4 separate regions of the Homo sapiens genome follow, and regions 1, 2 and 3 are each linked to region 4. Evidence: fine-mapped expression QTL. A gene starts in region 4. Each other region holds a variant in brackets. All regions are shown on one strand. Distances are between the middles of the regions. Region 1 overlaps ZNF544 (zinc finger protein 544). Region 2 overlaps ZNF132-DT (ZNF132 divergent transcript). Region 3 overlaps ZNF8-DT (ZNF8 divergent transcript). Region 4 holds the start of ZNF544 (zinc finger protein 544).

What was found. PIP is the estimated chance that this variant, and not a neighbour inherited with it, causes the effect. A credible set is the group of variants that fine-mapping cannot tell apart.
Region 1: its variant is the best candidate, but not a certain one, in a credible set for the expression of ZNF544 in whole blood (INTERVAL, PIP 0.85).
Region 2: its variant is the best candidate, but not a certain one, in a credible set for the expression of ZNF544 in cerebellar hemisphere (GTEx, PIP 0.82).
Region 3: its variant is the best candidate, but not a certain one, in a credible set for the expression of ZNF544 in tibial artery (GTEx, PIP 0.79).

Annotation. Positions count from the first base shown.
Region 1 is chr19:58,253,594-58,259,017 of GRCh38, reverse strand. The region is part of intron 6 of ZNF544 (zinc finger protein 544); the gene reads right to left. ZNF8-DT (ZNF8 divergent transcript) reads left to right here. Exons shown (of 3, transcript NR_187495.1): 3 at 1-1,745. Among named protein-coding and RNA genes, the nearest start is that of ZNF8-DT, 22 kb to the left of the region's middle. The variant C/T (reference allele first, on the strand shown) is at 2,207.
Region 2 is chr19:58,444,060-58,449,483 of GRCh38, reverse strand. It overlaps ZNF132-DT (ZNF132 divergent transcript), which reads right to left. Exons shown (of 1, transcript NR_186311.1): 1 at 4,983-5,424. It also overlaps a transcript of ZNF324B not described here and the pseudogene LOC100419848. Among named protein-coding and RNA genes, the nearest start is that of ZNF324B, 4.8 kb to the left of the region's middle. The variant A/G (reference allele first, on the strand shown) is at 2,305.
Region 3 is chr19:58,265,947-58,271,370 of GRCh38, reverse strand. The region is part of intron 1 of ZNF8-DT (ZNF8 divergent transcript); the gene reads left to right. It also overlaps a transcript of ZNF544 not described here. Among named protein-coding and RNA genes, the nearest start is that of ZNF8-DT, 10 kb to the left of the region's middle. The variant C/G (reference allele first, on the strand shown) is at 2,648.
Region 4 is chr19:58,226,234-58,231,657 of GRCh38, reverse strand. ZNF544 (zinc finger protein 544) reads right to left here and starts at 2,744. Exons shown (of 7, transcript NM_014480.4): 1 at 2,712-2,744; 2 at 2,088-2,190; 3 at 1,196-1,264. RefSeq lists an enhancer at 2,042-2,868.

The DNA of each region.
Region 1 (5,424 bases), 27 kb before region 4:
ACTGATATTACAAAATATGGTTGATCTTGCCATCCTTGTTATTGTCCTGGTGGGGATTCCTCTCTGTTGAAGATACGGAGCCTCTAAAAATGAGTGGCAGAGGCTCCCAGCTCAGGATCCTTGTCCAGGTCCTAAAGATCCTCCACTCTGCTTGTCACTCTGTTCATTATGTTTGCATGGCCACCACGGTCAACACTACTGCGGCCTACCTCAAGTTCTCATGCCTCACTCTCTGAGCTCATGAGGACACAAGGATCCTTTGGCAACACATTAACTACACTCTGTGGCCATCCCTTGACTTCTGAGAGGATGTTTCCCTCCTCTCAATCAAAAGCTCTCTTCCCTCCTGGGCAAGATCCTTGCATGCACCCAGCACCCTCACACCTGGTGCCCTCACACCCAGCACTCTCACACGTGGTGCCCTCACACCCAGCACCCTCACACCCAGCACCCTCACACCTGGTGCCCTCACACCCAGCACCCTCACACCTGGTGCCCTCACACCCAGCACCCTCACACCTGGTGCCCTCGCACCCAGCACCCTCACACCTGGTGCCCTCGCACCCAGCACCCTCACACCTGGTGCCCTCGCAACCAGCACCCTCACACCTGGTGCCCTCACACCCAGTGCCCTCACACCCAGCACTCTCACACTTGCACTGTCCTCATCCCAACTCTGTGGTTCCTCTGGGGAATCACTGTGGAATCCCTCATGGGAGGATGTTTTCAAAAGAAACAACAGCCCAATGAAGGGTATTTGAGGATGAGAAGCAGGAAAGAAGTCAGTGGGTGGCTGAGTTGTGTCCAGGTTTTGCGTGGCCATGGAAAATCAGGTGAAGGACATTAAATATCTTGCAGTGGCTTCTCCATTAGGAGCATGAAATGAGGAAAGGGGCTGTCCTCACAGGCCAGCCAAGAGGGATGCCTATGCCAAACAGAAAGACTGACAGTAAACAGAATCCAGGATGACATGACTGAGGTATGGTGTGCAGGGCATGGCCCAGGGAGGAGGGTAGATAAGTAAGCCTGGGTGCACCTTCAGAGGAAGAAATAACAGAGGCTGCAGGCGAGAGAGTTACAAGGAAGGAGGAGCAGGAAGACACGAGAAAAATTCAGATAAACTCAACATCTCCAGCCTGGGGGAAACGTGAGAGGGTGGTATGAAGATACACACGATGCATGTTGCTTAGTGAAAGCAGCCAGTCGGAAAAGGCTACGTAGTGAATGACCCCAACTATGACATTCTGAAAAAGGCAAAACTATGGAGACAGGATAAAGATCAGTGGTTGCCAGTGAGGCAGGAGAATAGGGTCTGGGGGCAGGGAGCCTAAGGCTGATTCATGCTGACTTCATGAACGGAATCAAAAGGAAAACCCTAAATTTCCATGCCCACGTAACAAAAGGATCAGAGGCTACTCCCTTTGCAACTCCCCCCAACTTTCTGTGTTGCAGATGAAAAATGGAAAGTGCCTCGGATTGGTCCCCTCCTGCAACCAGTCAGACATCTGCATAGAGCGTAACTTTGTAACTTCACTTCAGCCTCTGCTTGGTCACCTTCCACAACCAATCAGACTGGTCATGGGCCACTATTTCATAGGGTGTAAACCAAGTGACCAATGGGAAACATCTAGAGGGTATTTAAACCCCAGAAAATTCTGCGACCAGTGCTTTTGAGCCTTGCTTGGGCCTGCTCCCACTCTGTGAAGTGCATTTTTGTTTCAATACAGCTATGCTTTTGTTGCTTCTTTTGTTGCTTTGTGTGTTTCGTCCAATTCTTTGTTAAAAATGCCAAGAACCAGCCAGGCGTGGTGGCTCATGCCTGTAATCCCAGCACTTTGGGAGGCCGAGGCGGGTGGATCACGAGGTCAGGAGATCGAGACCATACTGGCTAACATGGTGAAAACCCGTCTCTAATAAAAATACAAAAAATTAGACGGGCGTGGTGGTGGGTGCCTGTAGTCCCACCTACTCAGGAGGCTCAGGCAGGAGAATGGCGTGAACCTGGGAGGCGGAGCTTGCAGTGAGCAGAGATCGTGCCACTGCACTCCAGCTTGGGCAACAGAGTGAGACTGAAATGCCTAAGCTTGTTTTTACTCTAACTGGTTACTTTGAATTTTGTCCTGCTTGTCTCTTTAATCACCTAGCCTTGCTTCTCATGTAAATAAGACTCTCTCTAGCTGGGAAGGCCGGACAAACTCCAATTGAC[C/T]CCTTAATTTACAAGACACTAAGGGCTCCTTACCCAACCCCCTTTCCTAAGGAGTTGGCCTGGGTAAACAGATCCTCAGCATTTCAAAAGAGCCCAATTAACTGATAAGGCACTAACACCAACAATGTATGAAGTTCCCAGGATTTTTCTCAAAGAGATAACAACAGAAAACCTTGAGTTTGTGTCCGGCATAGACCCTATATATCTAATTATAATGAAAGATTTAGAACCTTGCACGTGGTACCGTTGCTCTTCTTGTAACCGTTTAAGTTGTTTATCTCTCTGTAACCATTTTGCTTCTGTTGATTCTTGCATGTTTTTACTTCTGTAGACTTATTGCATTTGAGTCCCTCTCCCCTTCCTAAACCTAGGTATAAAAGTTAATCAAGCCCCTTCCTCGAGGCCGAGAGAATTTTGAGCATTAGCCGTCTCTTTGGCCGCCGGCTTAATTAAGGACTCTTAATTCGTCTCAAAGTGTGGCGTATTTTTAACTCGCTTGGGTACAACAAGACTCCATCTCAAAAAAAAAAAAGTAAAAGAACACAATGCCAAGAACATAGACACCCTCCACTGGTAACATATTTTGGTGAGCCAGCCAGGAGGTAGGCTCGAGGTTTGGGATTTCTTTCTTTTCTCTTTTTGTTTTCCCTTTTCCATATAGGGGAATCCTTTTCTCTCTCTCTTTTTCCCTTTCCAACTTACGGATCCTTGGTGGACAGCACATAAGCATGCAAGCAACTGTAAGTTTCTGGCCGGAGCCACTCTCTGGTGAAACGGAAAGATTTCTGTGTGGAAGTGCCTGACCGCTACCACCCAGTTCGGGTGAAGGACCTTAGTCCTTTTCCTTTTTCTCTTTTTCAGAAAATCTTTCAGCTGCCGTTTCCTACTAGTTCCTTGGTAACTGAGGGCAGCTGGCCAGGGCCACCCTCTGGTGTTGCCTGAAGGCCAAGGCGTAAATGGGGATAGCTGCCCTGCCCAGAAGGGGAAAAGACTCTTTTCTCTATTTTCCAGTTACAGTCCCTGATCCCTATCTGTGATGCAACTGGCAGCGGCAGCTCATCCAGGGCGAACTCACGCATATTTCAGGTGACTTAAATCCTCTTTTCTTATGCAAAATTCTCCTTAAAGTCAGCCTGTAAGGGCAAAAGATAATGTATCTCATGCATTTGACTTACCTTCTCTTACTCGATTTGACTGTCTGAAGACCTTTGGGATCCACAAGCTTCAGTAGACATTCTACATCTCAGACTTCACTGAGGGGATCCCATAGGTTGACGGTCATTGCTTCTGCATCAATTTGCTTTCCCTGAATCTCACAGAAATTCTCAACCCCAGCCAGGTGCAGTGGCTCACACCTGTAATCTCTGCACTTTGGGAGGCCAAGGCGGGTGGATCACCTGAGGTCAGGAGTTTGAGACCAGCCTGGCCAACATGGTGAAACCACAGCTCTACTAAAAATACAAAAAAATTGGCTGGGCATGGTGGCACACGCCTGTAATCCCCAGCTACTCAGGAGGCTGAGGCAGGAGAACTGCTTGAACTCGGGAGGCGGAGGTTGCAGTGACCCGAGATCATGCCACTGCACTCCAGCCAGCCTGGGCAACAAGACCAAAACTCCGTCTAAGGCTGGGCGCTGTGGCTCACACCTGTAATCCCAGCACTTTGGGAGGCTGAGGCGGGTAGATCACGAGGTCAGGAGATCGAGACCATCCTGGCTAACATGGTGAAACCCCATCTCTACTAAAAAGTACAAAAAATTAGCCGTGCGTGGTGGCGGGCGCCTGTAGTCCCAGCTACTCAGGAGGCTGAGGCAGGAGAATGGCGTGAACCCGGGAGGCGGAGCTTGCAGTGAGCCGAGATCGCGCCACTGCACTCCAGCCTGGGCGACAGAGTGAGACTCCATCTCAAAAAAAGAAAAACTCTGTCTCAAGAAAAAAAAAAAAAAAAGAAAGAAAGAAATTCTCAATCTCAGTCTTTCACATACCGCTGGATCCTTCCTTCACAGAGAATACCCCACCAACCTTGGTACTATTAACTCTGCAATGTTTCAGAACCTCCTTAGTCCTGTGAGGAATGCAGGAAGATACATCACACTGAAATTAGTGGGATACTAAAAGTCTGGGATTACGCCCAGGAACCAAAGGAAAGCTCACAGTAGACCATCGCCACTGGAGGGAAAACATATAAAGCAGCACTGGTGCCCACCTAAAGTCAGAGATGTCTGACACTCTAAGATTGGACCCCAAAGGGGGATCCTCTAGGGGATCCAACTCCAGACCTCAACCTCTCCAAAGGGGACACCCTAGGCTGAGGTTCTGAGGAATAGTACTACACCCTCCCTAGGATTTTCTCTCTTACAGACAATAATAGGAAACACTCCATCTATTCCATCTGACTCCCTGCTTGGCTGCATCCTCAACGACTGGAATAAATTTGACCCTGATAATCTAAGGAGGAAACACTTGATATTCTTTTGCAATACTGTTTGGCCCCAACATTGTTTGGAATCTGGAGTTTGCTGTTGAATGGGAAAGTGAGATGGAGTTGCATGTATCCAGGCATTTGTGCTGCTGTTCCTTTTTTTTTTTGAGATGGAGTCTCGTTCTGTCACCCAGGCTGGAGTGCAGTGTCGTGATATCAGCTTACTGCAAGCTATGCCTCCCGGGTTCACGCCATTCTCCTGCCTCAGCCTCTCAAGTAGCTGGGACTACAGGTGCCCGCCACCAGGCCTGGCTAATTTTTTGTATTTTTAGTAGAGATGGGGTTTCACCATGTTAGCCAGGATGGTCTTGATCTCCTGACCTCGTGATCCGCCTGCCTGGGATTACAGGCGTGAGCCACCGCACCCAGCCGACTTAAGTAAATCTTTACTAAAGAAGTTGGCTTTAAAATTATTGGTAAAATGAAAATAGAAATGTCTTCAGAATTGTCAACATATATGGTTTTATATTTGTCTTTGCAAGATATTTTAAGGTGTCAGTGTTTGGCACAGAAGGTTATAAAGGTATTAACCCAGCCAAAACAAAAAATGGTCCTGGTTTGTATGCTTTCTTTGACAAATGAGACTAGTTTGGCCGGGCATGGTGGCTAGTGCCTGCAATCCCAGCACTTTGGGAGGCCAAGGTGGGCAGATCACCCGAGGTCAGGAGTTCGAGACCAGCTTGGCTAACACAGTGAAAACCCATCTCTACTAAAAATAAAAAAAATTAACTGGATGT
Region 2 (5,424 bases), 220 kb before region 4:
CCGGGTGCGTGGTCCAAGCTGTTGGTTGTATCTACCATTCTGGAGTCTGGAGGATGGTGGCCCCCTTCTCACAGCTCCACTAGGCAGTACCCCAGTGGGGACTCAGTGTGGGGTCTTCAACCCCACATTTCCCTTCAGCACTGCCCTACCAGAGGTTCTCCATGAGGGCCCTGCCCCTGCAGCAAACTTTTGCCTGCTCCAAATCTGGGCATTTCCATACATCTTCTGAAATCTAGGTGGAGGTTCCCAAACCTCAGTTCTTGAGTTCTGTGCACCCACAGGCTCAACACCACATGGGAGCTGCCAAGGCTTGAGGCTTGCACCCTCTGAAGCCACAGCCTAAGCTGTACCTTGGCTCCTTTTAGCCATAGTTCAAGCAGCTGGGATGCAGGGCACCAAGTCTGTAGGCTGCACACAGCAGGGGGAGCCCACGAAACCATTTTTTCCTCCTAGGCCTCTGGGCCTGTGATGGGAAGGGCTGCCACAAAGGTCTCTGACATGTCCTGGAGATATTTTCCCCATTGTCCGGGCGATTAACATTTGACTCCTGGTTACTTATGCAAATTTCTTGAATTTCTCCACAGAAAATGTGTTTTTCTTTTCTGTTGCATGGTCAGGCTGCAAATTTTCTGAACTTTTATGCTGTATTTCCCTTTTAAAACTGAATGCTTTTAATAATATCAAAGTCACCTCTTGAATGCTTTGCTGCTTAGAAATTTCTTCCACCAGATACTTTATTTTTATTTTTATTTTTTTTGAGATGGAGTCTTGCTCTGTCACCCAGGCTGCAGGGCAGTGTTGCAATCTTGGCTCACTGCAAGCTCCGCCTCCTAGGTTCATGCCAGTCTCCTGCCTCAGCCTCCTGAGTAGCTGGGACTACAGGCACCCGCCATCATGCCAGGCTAATTTCTTTGTATTTTTTTAGTAGAGACGGGGTTTCACCATGTTAGCCAGGATGGTCTTGATCTCCTGACCTCATGATCCACCTGCCTCAGCCTCCCAAAGTGCTGGGATTACAGGCGTGAGCCACTGCACCCGGACCAGATACTTTAAGTCATCTCCCTCAAATCCAAAGTTCCACAAATCTCTACAGCAGGGGCAAAATGCCACCAGTCTCTTTGCTAAAACATAGCAAGCATCACCTTTACTCCAGTTCCCAACAACTTCATCTCCATTTGAGACTACCTCAGCCTGGAGTTCATTGCCCATATCATTATCAGCATTTTGGTCAAAGCCATTCAACAAGTCTCTAGGAAGTTCCAAACATTCCCACATTTTCCTATCTCCTTCTGAGGCTTCCAAACTGTTCCAACCTCTGCCTGTTACCCAATTCCAAAGTTGCCTCCACATTTTCGGGTATCTTTATAGCAGTACCCCACTCTACCAATTTACTATATTCATCTGTTTTCACATTGCTGATAAGGACATACTTGAGACTGGGTAATTTATGAAGACAAAGAGGTTTAATGGACTCACAGTTCCATGTGGCTGGGAGGCCTCACAATCATGGCAGAAGGTGAAAGCCCTGTCTTACATGGTGGCAGGTAAGAGCAAATGAGAGCCAAGCAAAAGAGGAAACCCCTTATAAAACCATCAGGTCTCTTGAGACTTATTCACTACCACGAGAACAGTGTGGGGAAACTGCCCCCATGACTCACTTATCTCCCACTGGGTCCCTCCCACAACGTGTGGGAATTATGAGAGTTACAATTCAAGATGAGATTTGGGTGGGGACACAGCCAAACCATATCACCTGGCTAATTTTATTTACTTTTTTTGTAGAAACGAGGTTTCACCATGTTTCTCAGGTTGGTCTCGAACTCCTGTACTCAAGCAATCCACCTGCCTCAGCCTCCCAAACTGCTAGGATTACAGTCATGACCCATCATGTCCAATCTCAAGTAATGTTTAATGTTTGGAGACGTTTAACTTCTTAAACACTTTATTTTTACATTATCCATCTAATGTGTAATTCTTCAGGCAAATGTTAATTACTTAATACTTAGAAAAATGCTAATTGTTTGAAACATTCTTAATGAATTGGGCATGAAATAAAAATAGCAACAAATTGCCTTCTGTACACACAAGAGCCTCCTCTTTTTGGCTCAGACCCCTACCCTGCACAGGATTAGCACTAAGGGTGGTCACCTGGGGCAGCTGATTGACCCTAGCCAACGTGGTCCTTTGGTTAAGCTCCTGCATTGTCGGCCAGGCATGGTGGCTCACGCCAGTAATCCCAGCACTTTGGGAGGCCGAGGCAGGCAGATCACTTGAGGTCAGGAGTTTGAGACCAGCCTGGCCAAT[A/G]TATGGTGAAACTCCGTCTCTAGTAAAAATACAAAAATTAGCCAGGCATGGTGGCACACGCCTGTAAGTCCAGCTATTTGGGAGGCTGAGACAGAAGAATTGCTTGAAACCGGGAGGCAGAGGTTGCAGTGAGCTGAGATCATGCCACTGCACTCCAGCCTGAGCACCAGAGTGAGACTCTGCCTCAAAAAAAAGAAAGAGAGAAAAGAAAAGAAAGGACGAGAAAAGAAAGAAAAGGAAAGGAAAGCAAAGGAAAGGAAAGGAAAGAAGAAAAGAAAAGAAAAAAGAAAAGACAAAAGGAGAGAGGTCGGGTGCAGTGGCTCATGCCTGTAATCCCAGCACTTTGGGAGGCCGAGGTGGGGGGATCACGAGGTCAGGAGATCGAGACCATCTTGGCCAACATGGTGAAACCCTGTCTCTACTAAAATACAAAAAATTAGCCGGGCGAGGTGGTGTGTGGCTGTAATTCCAGCTACTTGGGAGGCTGAGGCAGGGGAATCTCTTGAACCCGGGAGGCGGAGGTTGCAGTGAGCTGAGATCGCACCACTGCACTCCAGCCTGGTGACAGAGAAAGACTCCATCTCAAAAAAAAAAAAAAAAAAAAAAGAGAAAGAAATTATCCAATCAGGCTCCTTGCTTGGAATGGGGTCATGTCCATGTCAAACCCCATCATGAGTGAGCATGATACCACCCCAATGTGTGCAAGGCCCCTACCATCCCTCCAAGGTAGTATAAACAGGAAACAGGGAGTGACTTACATTGAGCAACTGGGAAGTCACCATAAAACAGAGATGGGCTTCCACCACAGGACCCAGTGGTGTGATAGCTCTGCCAAGGTCCCTCAGCGGGTTGCAAAGTACAACATGGGTTCTGTCAGCTTCTCCACATGCAGGGCGATCATGGTACAACATGGGTTCTGTCAGCTTCTCCACATGCAGGGCCATCATGGAGTGTCTCCTCAGGGAGGAATCCTTCTACACAAGGTTTAGCTGTGGCTGAAGGCTACTCATGTAGGGCTGGGTTTTGTTTTGTTTGTTTGTTTTTTGAGATGGAGTTTCACTCTGTTGCCCAGGTTGGAGTGCAGTGGCATGATCTTGGCTCACTGCAATCTCCGCCTTCCAGGATCAAGTGATTCTCCTGCCTCAGCCTCCTGAGTAACTGGGATTACAGGTGCCTGCCACCATGCCCGGCTAATTTTTCTGTTTTTAGTAGAGACAGGGTTTCATCATGTTGGCCAGGCTGGTCTCAAACTCCTGACCTCAAATGATCTGCCTGCCTCGGCCTCCCAAAGTGCTGGGATTACAGGCGTGAGCCACTGCACCCAGCTGTGTTTTTTGTTTGTTTGTTTGTTTGTTTTTGGTGAGGGAGACAGGGTCTTGCTCTGTCACCCAGTCTGGGGTGCAGTGGCTCTAACTCAGCTCACTGCAACCTCTGCCCCCTGAGGTCAAGCAATTCTCCTGCCTCAGCCTCTGGTGTAGCTGGGATTACAGATGGGCGTTACCATGCCCAGCTGATTTTTGTATTTTTTGTAAAGAGGGGGTTTGCCATGTTAGCCAGGTTGGTCTCAAACTCCTGACCTCAGGTGATCCCCCTGCCTTAGCCTCCCAAAGTGCTGGGATTACAGGCATGAGCCACCACACCTGGCCAGTGTGAATTCTTTTATACTAAATAAGGGAGGTGAAGACTTTCCTACATTTACTATAATCAAAAGGCTTTTCTCCAGGGTGAAGTTTCTGGTGCCAAGCAAGGCAGGAGCTGTGGCCGATGCTCTCCCATGCTGGCTGCACTCATAGAGGGTTTTTCCAGTGTGAATCACTTTGTGCACATCAAGGCAGGAGCTGCAATTTTTTGCTCTCCTACATGCTACACTCACAATGCTGTAAATTGCTGGTGCTAAATAGGATTAAAATTGAGAATAGGCTTTCCAACATTAGCTGCATGCACTGGGCCTCTCTGATGAGAATTCTGCAGGATGAGGTTTCATATTTCACTGAAAGCTTTCATGTAGTTATTGCATTTGTACAACCATTTTCCGGTGTTAATTTGTTTTTGCTAATGAAAGCAGAACTCTGAATATAACATGTATGAACCTCAAGTCAGGTACCAGGGAAGCCACCAGGACAGCTGGCAGTGCCCCACATTCCCTGAACTTAGGAGTCCTTCATTAGGGTATGACCATTTTGATACAGAGGAGAGTTTTGCAAAATTTTGCTCATGGCTGGACCACACTCCTTGCGCTTATGGGGACTTTCTCTGGGGTGAACATATTGGTGCTCAAAGGAGGTAGAGTTCTGGCTGGAGGATTCCCCATGTTACTATACTTGTAAGGGCCTTTGAAGATGTGCATGTACTCCTGCTTTCTCAGGATGAAGACAAAAGTGAAGGCCTTCCCATGCTCATAATACACTTGCAATTTTTTCCACTGTGAAGTTTTTTGGTAGGAGAAAAGGCTTGCTTCCCCTCAAACACCTTTCCATATGCTGTGTATTTATCAGCTATCTCTTCAGTGTCAGTTCTCTGTAGGTTCTGCAAAATGTGGAGCTGCAGGGCCCTAGTGTCTGGTGACAGGTCAGTACCATGCAGTGAGCGAAGTCCAGGTCTTGAACCATTGACACCTATGCCCATACTCCTCAAATGGAACAAGCCAGTCTCACGGAAGAAGAGGTTTTCAAAAACTATTTAGGTATCTATGTATTTATTTATTTATTTTAGAGATAGGATCTCGTTATGTTGCCCAAGCTGGACTCAAACTCCTGGTCTCAAGCGCTCCTCCTGCCTCAGCATCCCAAGTAGTTGGGACTGTAGTTATGAGCCACCATGTGCAGATAACAACTATTTAAAGATACATTATCCGTTCAAGACACATTAAAGGGAGGCCAATGGTAGAAGACCTGGCCACTGGAGGGGAGGACGGGAGAAGGGGAAAGAGTGAATCTTGGAAGACAGAGAGGAAGCCATCCAGGGAACAGGAGTCAGGGCAAAGTAGGATAGAGTGTCAGAAGAAGGTCAGGAAAATTTTTTTTAAAAGGCACAGCTATACATCCTGGTGCCAGGACAACAGAGGGCACAACTCAGGTACCAGGTGAGCCACCAGGGCACTGCCAACAGCTCTGCCACAGC
Region 3 (5,424 bases), 40 kb before region 4:
CTCAGCCTCCCAAAGCACTGGGATTACAGGTGTGCACCACCATATCCACTGCACCCACCTCCAGCCACTTTTAACCATATCTGTTCCAATTCTTCTTGAGGACACCTCCGTAATTCTAATCTTTGATCATCTTTAGTCTTTTTTTTTTTTTTTTTCCTGGAGACGGAGTCTGACTCTGTTGCCCAGGCTGGAGCACAGTGATGCAATCTCAGCTCACTGCAACCTCCACTTCCTGGGTTCAAACGATTCTCCTGCCTCAGCCTCCTGAGTAGCTGGGATTACAGGTGCCCACCACCACGCTGGGCTAATCTTTGTATTTTTAGTAGAGACAGAGTTTCACCATGTTGGCCAGGCTGGTCTCAAACTCCTGACCTCAGGTGATCCACCCACCTCAGCCTCCCAAAGTGCTGGGATTACAGGCATAAGCCACCGCATCCAGCCAATCATCTTTAGTTTTCACTAACTTCCTGCTCTGACAGGTGAGGATCTGACTCACATCCGCTGCCAATTCCTCTCATATTACATTTCAAGCTTTAATTTTCATCTTCTAAATAAACTTACATATCATGTTTAAAAGCCTACTTCCTAAAAGGATGGTAAGGGAAACCTCTACTCTCCACTACTACTTTCCCCATCTACTCTCCCACATCTGCAGGTGGGGCTGACATTGTCAGTGACAGGAATAATGACAACAGTGCCCTACCCTACGGCCACTATGAAGTTGTCAGGTCACAGCCATGTGTTACTTCCTAAAAATTAAAAGCCAATACAGGCCGGGTGCAATGGCTCATCCCTGTAATCCCAGCACTTTGGGATGCCAAGGTGGGCGGATCACAAGGTGAGGAGTTGGAGACCATCCTGACCAACATGGTGAAACCCTGTGTCTACTAAAAATACAAAAATTAGCTGGGCGTGGTGGCACGTGCCTGTAATCCCAGCTACTCAGGAGGCTGAGGCAGGAGAATTGCTTGAACCCGGGAGGCGGAGGTTACAGTGAGCCAAGATCGCGCCACTGCACTCCAGACTGGGCAACAGAGACTCCTTCTCAAAAAAAAAGAAAAAAAAAGCCAATACCTAGGGTTCACGTCACAGCTATGCAAATGCCATTCCCTGAAGGGTCAATCAACAATCTGACTGCATCTCCTCCTCCTTTATTCAAATTTCATGAGCTTTTTGCCCCCTCCAGCAAGAATTACTCACATCAGTGTCAAGTGAACACTACTTTCTAAAGTTACCTTCACATAGGAACTATAACCATCTAGCAGAATTTGTATAGTTTGAGCACAATTTACCTTGAAGCCTTCAATTAAAATTACCTTTTTTTTTAAGTTATGGGTGAATAAACATTCCTTTTCTTGCCCTATTCCTTTTCTAGATTAAAGCTATTCCTTTCTTAGATTCAAAACTATTTTCTCTAGAGAAGGTTCTGCCATGCCATTTGCTCTGTTTTGAGACAGAGTCTCATTCTGTCGCCCAGGCTGGAGTCCAGTGGCATGATCTAGACTCATTGCAACCTCTGCCTCCCAGGTTCAAGTGATACTCCTGCGTCAGCCTCCTGAGTAGCTGGGATTGCAGGCATTTATCACCACACTTGGCTAATTTTTGTATCTTTAGTAGAGACAGGGTTTCACCATCTTGGCCAGGCTGGTCTCAAACTCCTAACCTAGAGTGATCCACCTGCCTCGGTCTCCCAAAGTGCTGGGATTACAGGCGTGAGCCACCATGCCAGCCCTGCCATCTTTTTTTTTTTTTTTTTTTTTGAGACAGAGTCTCGCTTTGTCGCCCACGCTGGAGTGCAGTGGCACAATCTTAGCTCACTGCAACCTCCACCTCCTGGGTTCAAGCAATTCTCCTACCTCAGCCTCCCAAGTAGCTGGGATTACAGGTGTGAGCCACCATGCCCGACCCTGACATTTTTTTTGTTTGTTTTTTTTTGAGACAGAGTCTCGCTTTGTCGCCCAAGGCTGGAGTGCAGTGGCACAATCTTAGCTCACTGCAACCTCTACCTCTCGAGTTCAAGCGATTCTCCTGCCTCAGCCTCCTGAATAGCTGGGATTATAGGCGGCTGCCACCATGCCTGGCTAATTTTTGAATTTTTATTAGAGATGAGGTTTCACAATGTCGGCCAGGCTGGTCTCAAACTCTTGACTTCAGGTGATCTGCCTGCCTCAGCCTCCCAAAGAGCTGGGATTACAGGCGTGAGCCACCACGCCCAGCCTGCCATCTGTTTTTAGTCGTGGTGTTCTCAGTTTTCCACGATGCATGGGTCTTATTAATTCTGATAATAATGGCATGACCTGAAAATTTCCTTTCAGCCCTGGGGAAGTTTCCCTTTCTTTTTCTTACTTATTTGTTCAATGTGGAAAGTAAAAGTTCCTCTTCAAAGTTTCCCTTCTTGTTAAAGAATAAATCATAAGTGTTAAAAAATAATAGTTTCTTTTATAAACTAACTTCCTTGAAACCTCCTTGCTTTGTGCTAGTAAGTCTTTGTTAGGCCCTATCCTATGTAGCTGGTAAACATGCTCACAGGCACGTAGTACGTTCTATGTCCCTGTACCTTAACCAAGTTATTTGTGCTGGACATGCTCATGGTCACGTTCCAGCTTACAGCCTATGCTCCTTCCATATCTGGCATAAGCAACTTCCT[C/G]TTTTCCTTCGTCTTTCCACTACTTTTACCTATTTAGAAAAGTTTTAAACTGTTAGCTAATCTAGTTTTAGTTTAGATTGTGCAGGCTGGCTCCAGCCAACGGAGACAGGACACAGTAGCAGGGACAAACTGCCTAAGGAATAAAAATTGCTTCCCTCCTTTGTTCAGGTGTGCTCTTGCCATTGTTCCATCTGTGATGAGCACCCTTTCTGCAGAAAGTAAAAACGGCCTTGCTGAGAGAATTAAATTTATGTTTTGAGTGCTATTTCTTTGCAGCACCAGGCAACAAGCATTCTGTTTCTCACTAAACATTGTATCTATAACATTGAACAATCTTACTTGTAATTTCAAAGAGCCTGTTCTGGTTCTCATTGTTCTATTTTATCAAAGTATCTTATTTTTTATTTTTATTTATTTTTTCTGAGACGGAGTTTCACTCTTGTTGCCCAGGCTGGAGTGTAATGGCACTAGACCTCGGCTCACTGCAATCTCCACCTCCCAGGTTCAAGCGATTCTCCTGCCTCAGACTCCTGAGTAGCTGGGATTACAGGCATGCACCACCATGCCCGGCTAATTTTGTATTTTTAGTAGAAACAGGGTTTCTCCATGTTGGTCAGGCTGATCTCAAACTCCCAACCTCAGGTGATCCGCCCGCCTCGGCCTCCCAAAGTGTTGGGATTATAGGCGTGAGCCACTACGCCCAGTCTGTCTTATTTTTTACTGGTAACCCTCTTTTTTTTTTTGAAACGCAGTCTCGCTCTGTTGCTCAGGATGGAGTGCAGTGGCGTGATCTCGGCTCACTGCAAGCTCCTTCTCCTGAGTTCACGCCATTCTCCTGCCTCAGCCTCCCGAGTAGCTGGGACTACAGGTGCCCGCCACCATGCCCAGCTAATTTTTTGTATTTTTAGTAGGGACGGGGTTTCACCTGTTAGCCAGGATGATCTCGATCTCCTGACCTCGTGATACGCTTGCCTCGGCCTCCCGAAGTGCTGGGATTACAGGCGTGAGCCACCGCACCAGACCTTTTTTTTTTTTTTTTTTTTTTTTAGATGGAGTCTCGCTCTGTCACCCAGGCTGGAGTGCAATGGCATGATCTCGGCTCACTGCAACCTCTGCCTCAGCCTCCCAAGTAGCTGGGATTACAGGCGCCCACCACCACACTCAGCTAATGTTTGTATTGTATTTTTAGTAGATATGGGGTTTCACCATGTTGATCAGGCTGGTCTCGACCTCCTGACCCCACGATCCGACCGCCTCGGCCTCCCAAAGTACTGGGATTACAGGCATGAGCCACCACACCCGGCCTTGTAACCCTTTCTTGACTCACTTTTACGTTAACAAAATGCTTTAAATATTTGATTCTGCTGGGTGCGGTGGCTCACACCTGTAATCCCAGCACTTTGGGAGGCCAAGGTGGGTGGATTACTTGAGGTCAGGAGTTTGAGACCAGCCTGGTCAACATGGTGAAACCCCGTGTCTACTGAAAATACAAAAAATAGCTTGGCATGGTGGCACGTGCCTGTAATCCCAGCTACTTGGGACATTGCGGCAGGAGAATTGCTTGAACCTGGGAGGCAAAGGTTGCAGTGAGCCGAGATCGTGCCACTGCACTACAGCCTGAGCAACAGAATGAGACTCCGTCTCAAAAAACAAAGAATATTTGGTTCCTCTGAATATCTGTCTTTTCTGCTGTCTTAGATACCTTCTCTCATGATGGAGACTTTATCTTTTGCTCCTTGCCTCCCACCCATATTGAAGAGACTATCAGAAAGCAGACAGGAAGCTCCACAGACAGGCGGGGCTGCTTTAACAGTACGCTTTGCTCGAGGGTGAAGAGGGCGAGAACCAGCTATCAGGTAAAAAGTTCTGAAATGCCAGAATAAAGCAGCCCTTGCTGCAGAGCAAAATACATCAGATTCCCTTGTCCCCTGAACTAATCTTTTAGCACATGACTCCTTCCCTACTTTAATTTTTGCTACCCACAGCCAGATAGGTAATGCCAGGCAAGAAAAAAAAATGGGGAAGAGTCTGAGTTTCATGGACAGACCTTCGATTAACCCACTTTCTGGTCTATCAGTCTATGGCTCTGCTGGGGCTGCCACATCTGCTGCCACAGCCTCTCCTCGCCTGACCCTCTCCAGCCTTCCTCATTCTGTATGTTTCGCTATTGGCTATACTTCCATCTTTTTTTTTTTTTTTTTTTTTTTTTGAGACCGAGTCTCACTCTGTCGCCCAGGCTGGAGTGCAGTGGCATGATTTTGGCTCACTGCAAGCTCTGCCTCCTGGGTTCATGCCATTCTCCTGCCTCAGCCTCCCTCGTAGCTGGGACTACAGGCACCTGCCACCACACCTGGCTGATTTTTTGTATTTTCAGTAGAGACGGGGTTTCACTGTGTTAGCCAGGATGGTCTTGATCTGACCTCGTGATCCACCCTCCTTGGCCTCCCAAAGTGTCGGGATCACAGGCGTGAGCCACCGCACACAGCCCTTTTTTTTTTTTTTTTTTTTTTTGAGACAGAGTCTCGCTTTTCGCTTTTTTGCCCAGGCTGGAGTTCAACGGCGCAGTCTCGGCTCACTGCAACCTCCACCTTCTGGGTTCAAGTGATTTTCCTGCCTCAGCCTCCCGAGTAGCTGGGATTACAGGCACATGCCATGACACCTGGCTAATTTTTTGTACTTTTAGTAGAGATGGGATTTCACCATGTTGGCCAGGCTGGTCTCGAACTCCTAACCTCAAGGGATCTGCCTGCCTCGGCCTTCCAAAGTGCTGGGATTAC
Region 4 (5,424 bases):
TGAGGCCAAGGCAGGAGGCTCTCTTGAGGCTAGAAGTTCGAGACAAGCCTGGGCAACATGTGAGACCCCATTTATAAAAAAATAAATAATAAAGACATGAATTAAAACACACCGGGGCCTATGATCTCAGCTTCCTTCCCTAGCAAATGCCCCAGGCCTTCCTACCTTTCAAAATCCACTGACCACTCAGGCTGTACTTCCTACAGGCCAGGCACTGTACCCTGTCCTCTGCCTGAATTCATGCATTTGATCTTCCTTGTAACCCCACAAAGACAATTAACAGAATTTACCCTGCTTTCTAAATGAGGAAACCAAGGCAGAAAGAACTTGAGTAAAATTTAACTGAGGCCTCGTGGCTGGGGAGTGAGAAGGTGGGAGCTCCATAGCTCATGGCCCTAAGCACACTACCACTCAGGCTCCCAGCCTCCCCGTCTGGTACACCCCACCCCAGCCCAGCCCAATGCCCCTGTTCTTTTTCTTAACATCCTTGGCCTGAGGCCCACCTCTTGGCCTCTCTGATCTGTTTGTTCTGTGCAATCTGCCTATGCCCTTGACTGCCCTCTCTGCCCAACCCTGCTAGTTTCTGAGTTCTGGGTGGTATAGGAGTTCAGGAACACCAGTATCCACTCAGTCACTATCCCCTTACAGCTGCGAGCTCATGCTCTCACACCCTACTTCAGTCCCCTCCCACCACTGTCCTCTCTGTGCAGACAAATCGGCCTTTTAATTCACTCCAAGGGATGACTCTGGACTCTTTCAACCTCCTGGCACACAAACTCCTGCAGGCCTGCACTCATTAGTAGCTCCCTTCAAATTCTGAGCTGAGATGTCTTCTCCCTGGTCAAGATGAATCCATATCCCAGTGCCCCACCCCCTGCCTCTTCTCCTCTCAGGTGAGGCCTGAACAGAGTGACCAACACTCTCAGTTTCCCCCTCCTCATCTTGCCCATCCTGCTCTGCTCTCTCACTCCCAAACACACACACAAACACAAATGTAGACCACATCCAAGAGGTCTGCCCAATATCTTATGTGTTACTATCTTGTCCTGATGCTCCTGGCCTTCCCTGGGGAATCTCTCACTGCCTGTGTCCATCTTTGCTCTCTAACCCTGTCCTTCCTTGTCTGGAGGCATCCAAGGGCAACGGCTGAGAACACTCACTTTGCAACCTGCTGTCAAAGTACTGGCTCCATTACCTGCCACTGTAGGACTCTGAACGGGTCTCTTTAACCTCTCCAGGCCTCAGTTTCCTCATCCGTAGACATCTGGAAAAACAGCAAGACCTGCCTTGTGAGGATGCTAAAAGAATTAATTGAGTTGCATTTACAGAGCTTAACATTGTGTTAACCTGCAAAAGGGGCACAACACATGTATTCATAGTGATTATACTTGGACATAAAATTCCCCATCTGTTCCTCATACTGGACCTGTATGGTGGCTGATCTGGCAGAAGTCCCTCTGGCTGCAGGGCTGGGGAGGGAGTTGCTTTCTCTTTCCTTTTCCAGTTTTCTCCTTCCCTGCTTGTGGGGTGACGTTTCCAATCTGCTCCAGGTTACGTGTCCAGCCCAAACCTCCTGGGCTTCCTGCCACTGCCATTCCCTCCTCCACATTCAGCCATGTCACCCACATGCTCCTCAACTCCCATGCAGAGACTGACCAGGCATACCACATCTTCCTTGCACTGTGACTTCTACCCTGGCTCCACGCTGGAAACAGAAACACAGTCTTCCTCCACTCCTTCCTGTCTTTTGGCATCCCTCCTTACACGGAGTCATTTCCACAATCAGATGTTTCCCTACTCCCTTAGACTCTTGAAATCCAACCCCATGCCTTCCTCATTAGCACTGCCTTGTACGGTCCCCATCAAATATCACCCAACACAAATGGAACCCCGATCCCTAACTTACAGGCGTTACATACACATCCCATCCTGTTCACCTCTGTAGTCTCTCTATGGGGTGCACCAGCATCGCTTAACCAGTGCAGGCCCCCAACACCCCAGTTACCCCTGCCCTGCGTGGACTGGCCTTAATCTTCTGTTCACTTGGAAAATACACATGTTCTCTGCAAGGTTCAAGCTTCACGTACCATTGGAAGAAAATGTGTCCACGTCTGGAGCTGGGATGACCTCTGGGGTCCAATAGGCGTCACCTGCCTGGTGCCGCTGTGCCAGGAGGCTCTTGGCTGCCACCTGTGGATAAGCCGCAGAAGATGAGTTGAGGGAGGAAAAAGGAGCCGGGAGAGGCCCGCTGGGTCGGCAGCCCCAGAGCTCCAGACGCCAGCCTGAATCCCCCGCCCCTGCAGCCCTCGACCCAGGCACCCTCTGTCGGGAGGGCCCACCCAGTCCCACCCAGTCCCACCCAGTCCCACCCAGTCCCACCCAGTTCCACCCCTGCCCGTACCTGCGAGGTACTATAAGTTCCCTCCCAGCTCTGCAGCAGGAGAGCCTCCCGACAAGCTCAGACCCAGCCGGGCGCTCCTGCAGGGGAAACCTGACTGGACCGGCCTTCCCCGTCCCTGAGGCCGGAGAGATCCCGATCCCATCAGGCCCCTGCCCTTGCTCGGCCTCGCCGCATGAGGGACCCCCGCAGGCCCTGCTCGTTTCTCCGGCACGCCCAGATCACTTGGGGCGGCTCTGGCCTGGTCCTGCGCTCCGGCCGCACCCGGCTAACAGTGAAACCTCCGAGCCAACCTTGAGGCCGCCAGACTCACCTGCACGCACCGGCCAATGGCGGTGCTTCCGGTGGCCGGCGGACGTGCCCGCGCTCCGCGCAACAAACAACTCCCAGAAGGCCGCGCGCCGGTAGCCGTTGCTCCCACAGGCATAGTCATTGCCGGCGGGAGCATGGGGCCCCGCGGCGGCGGGATGAGCTTTTTCCTGTGTTCGCGACTAGCATTGTGGCTTAGGGAGTTGCTTCCCGCGGCTCTGCTCCTTGCAGCGCCTGTCCCCTCCCCCTTAAACGGGCCACGCTGGTTCTCATCCAGCAACCGAAGCCGAGACTGTGGAGGCGGCGGTCGGCGTCCAGGGCGGGACTAGCGCCTATGGGGCTCGGCGCTGTCATCTCGGGTGCCTTCCCGGCGCCTTGCCCTGCTGGGGAGAGAGACCAAGACTGAGCCATGAGAACAGTCCAAGGCCGTTAACCGGGAGCTCAGGGGCAAGGGCGCCCGCCAACATCTGCGCCTGTGGCAGGGACTCAGGGACAGCCTGGGCGTGGGGACGCGTCCTAGTGATAGAAACAAAGCCCCGGGAGTGCCCTGCTTGGAGCATTCCGAGTGGAAGGTGGAAGCACGCTAACTGGAGGCGATTCGTCCTAGGTGATCGCTCAGTCGAGCCTATTTGGCTTTCTGTGGTAGCTCCTAAGTGGGACAGGGAAAAAAATAGGGAGGCTGGCAGTGACCAAGTTCTGTTTTGTACCTATTGCTGCAGAAGTTGTGGGACAGAGTTCTGTTATTATAAATGGTCTGATGTTCAGTCTCAGTGCGTTGTGGGGCTCAATGTCTGAGACCCACCACCGCCTGACCCGTCCTGGCTCTTCAATGAGGGAGACCACAGGAAACTTTCCTACGAAGGCCAGGTAGGCGGGAACCACTGTGGCTCAGGCACCCTCAGCTCCTGGACTGTGCTTTTGTGTCTGGGGTGCATCTGTGACTAGCCTTCCTTGGCTTGACTGTTTTGTAGCTGACCTTGTCGATAGCTTTACCCAACAGTCATCATCTTTTTACTTGCTTATTTTCATACCTGGCTAGCACGACCCTGCAATTTTTAGATTCTTCCGGGAAATCTAGAATCTAACTCCCTAAGGGAGGATCTTGATGGATTCTAAGCTAATCAGAATGGACTCAAGCTTCTTGCTGTGTGAATTAGGCAAGGATATTCTGGCCAAGGAGAAATAAGGCTGCTAGGGGTTTCCTGGGAAGGTTCCCTCAGTCTTTTTTTTTTTTTTTTTTTTTTTTTTTTTTTGTGAGACGGAGTCTCGCTCTGTCCACCAGGCTGGAGTGCAGTGGTACGATCTAGGCCCACGGCACTCTCCGCCTTCCGGGTTCACGCCTTTCTCCTGCCTCAGCCTCCCGAGTAGCTGGGACTACAGGCGCCCGCCACCACGCCCGGCTAATTTTTTGTAATTTTTCTTTTTTAGTAGAGACGGTGTTTCTCCCTGTTAGCCAGGATGGTCTCGATCTCCTGACCTCATGATCCACCCGCCTCGGCCTCCCAAAGTGCTGGCATTACAGGCATGAGCCACCGCTCCCGGCCGGTTCCCTCAGTCTTAAAAGTGGACATAAGATAGCAATGTGTCTTCTTTTGCCCCTGGACCGTGATGTCTGTATGTGATGTGTAGGACAATTACAAGCACACTGGCACCATGAGGAAGCCACCCCAGGAGGTAAAGGCAACATGCTGAGAATGGCACAGCAGAAAAATGGAAAGAACCAGTATCCATGATGGAATGAATCCTCTTTGTGCCACTGAATCAACATTGCCTATGCTCACCTCAGGGACTTTTCATTATGAGATAATAAATGATCTTGTTTGTTTTTATTATAGAAAATTTCAGGCCAGGAGTGGTGGCTCACGCCTGTAATCCCAGCACTTTGGGAGGCTGAGGCAGGCCGATCACGAAGTCAGGAGATCGAGACCATCCTGGTTAACATGGTGAAACCCCGTCTCTACAAAAAATACAAAAAATTAGCCGGGCGTGGTGGCGGGAGCCTGTAGTCCCAGCTCCTTGGGAGGCTGAGGCAGGAGAATGGCCCTGAACCCAGGAGGCGGAGCTTGCAGTGAGCCAAGATCACGCCACTGCACTCTAGCCTGGGCAACAGAGGGAGACTCCGTCTCAAAAAAAAAAAAAGTTCAAGTAAATAAGAACTTTGATGTTACATTTCTGTTTACTGTTTCCATGTCTGTATCAATAATGGAGTCGTCTGAGGAACAACTTTCCCTACATCAGTGTTTATATTATTCAGTTTTAGGCTTAGTGCTTAAGCTTAGTGATCGCCTTTTGTAGGATTGTGTCATAAGAGCAAAGAATGACCATATATTGTTACATTAAAAATGTTACCTTTGGCTGGGCACAGTGGCTTATGCCTGTAATTCCAGCACTTTGGGAGGCTGAGACAGGTGAATCACCTGAGGTCATGAGTGCAAGGTCAGCCTGGCCAACATGGCGAAACCCTGTCTCTACTAAAAATACAAAAACTAGCCAGGTGTGGTGGTGGGCACCTGTAATCCCAGCTACTCAGGAGGCTGAGACAGGAGAATGGCTTGAGCCCAGGAGGTGGAGGTTGCAGTGAGCCGAGATGGTGCCACTGCACTCCTCCAGCCTGCCTCTGACTCAAAAAAAAAAAAAAAAAAAGTTACTTTTACCTTGATGTCTAAATAAAAGGGAAGAAAATCTTTTAAAAGTTATGGCTGGGCACAATGCCTCAC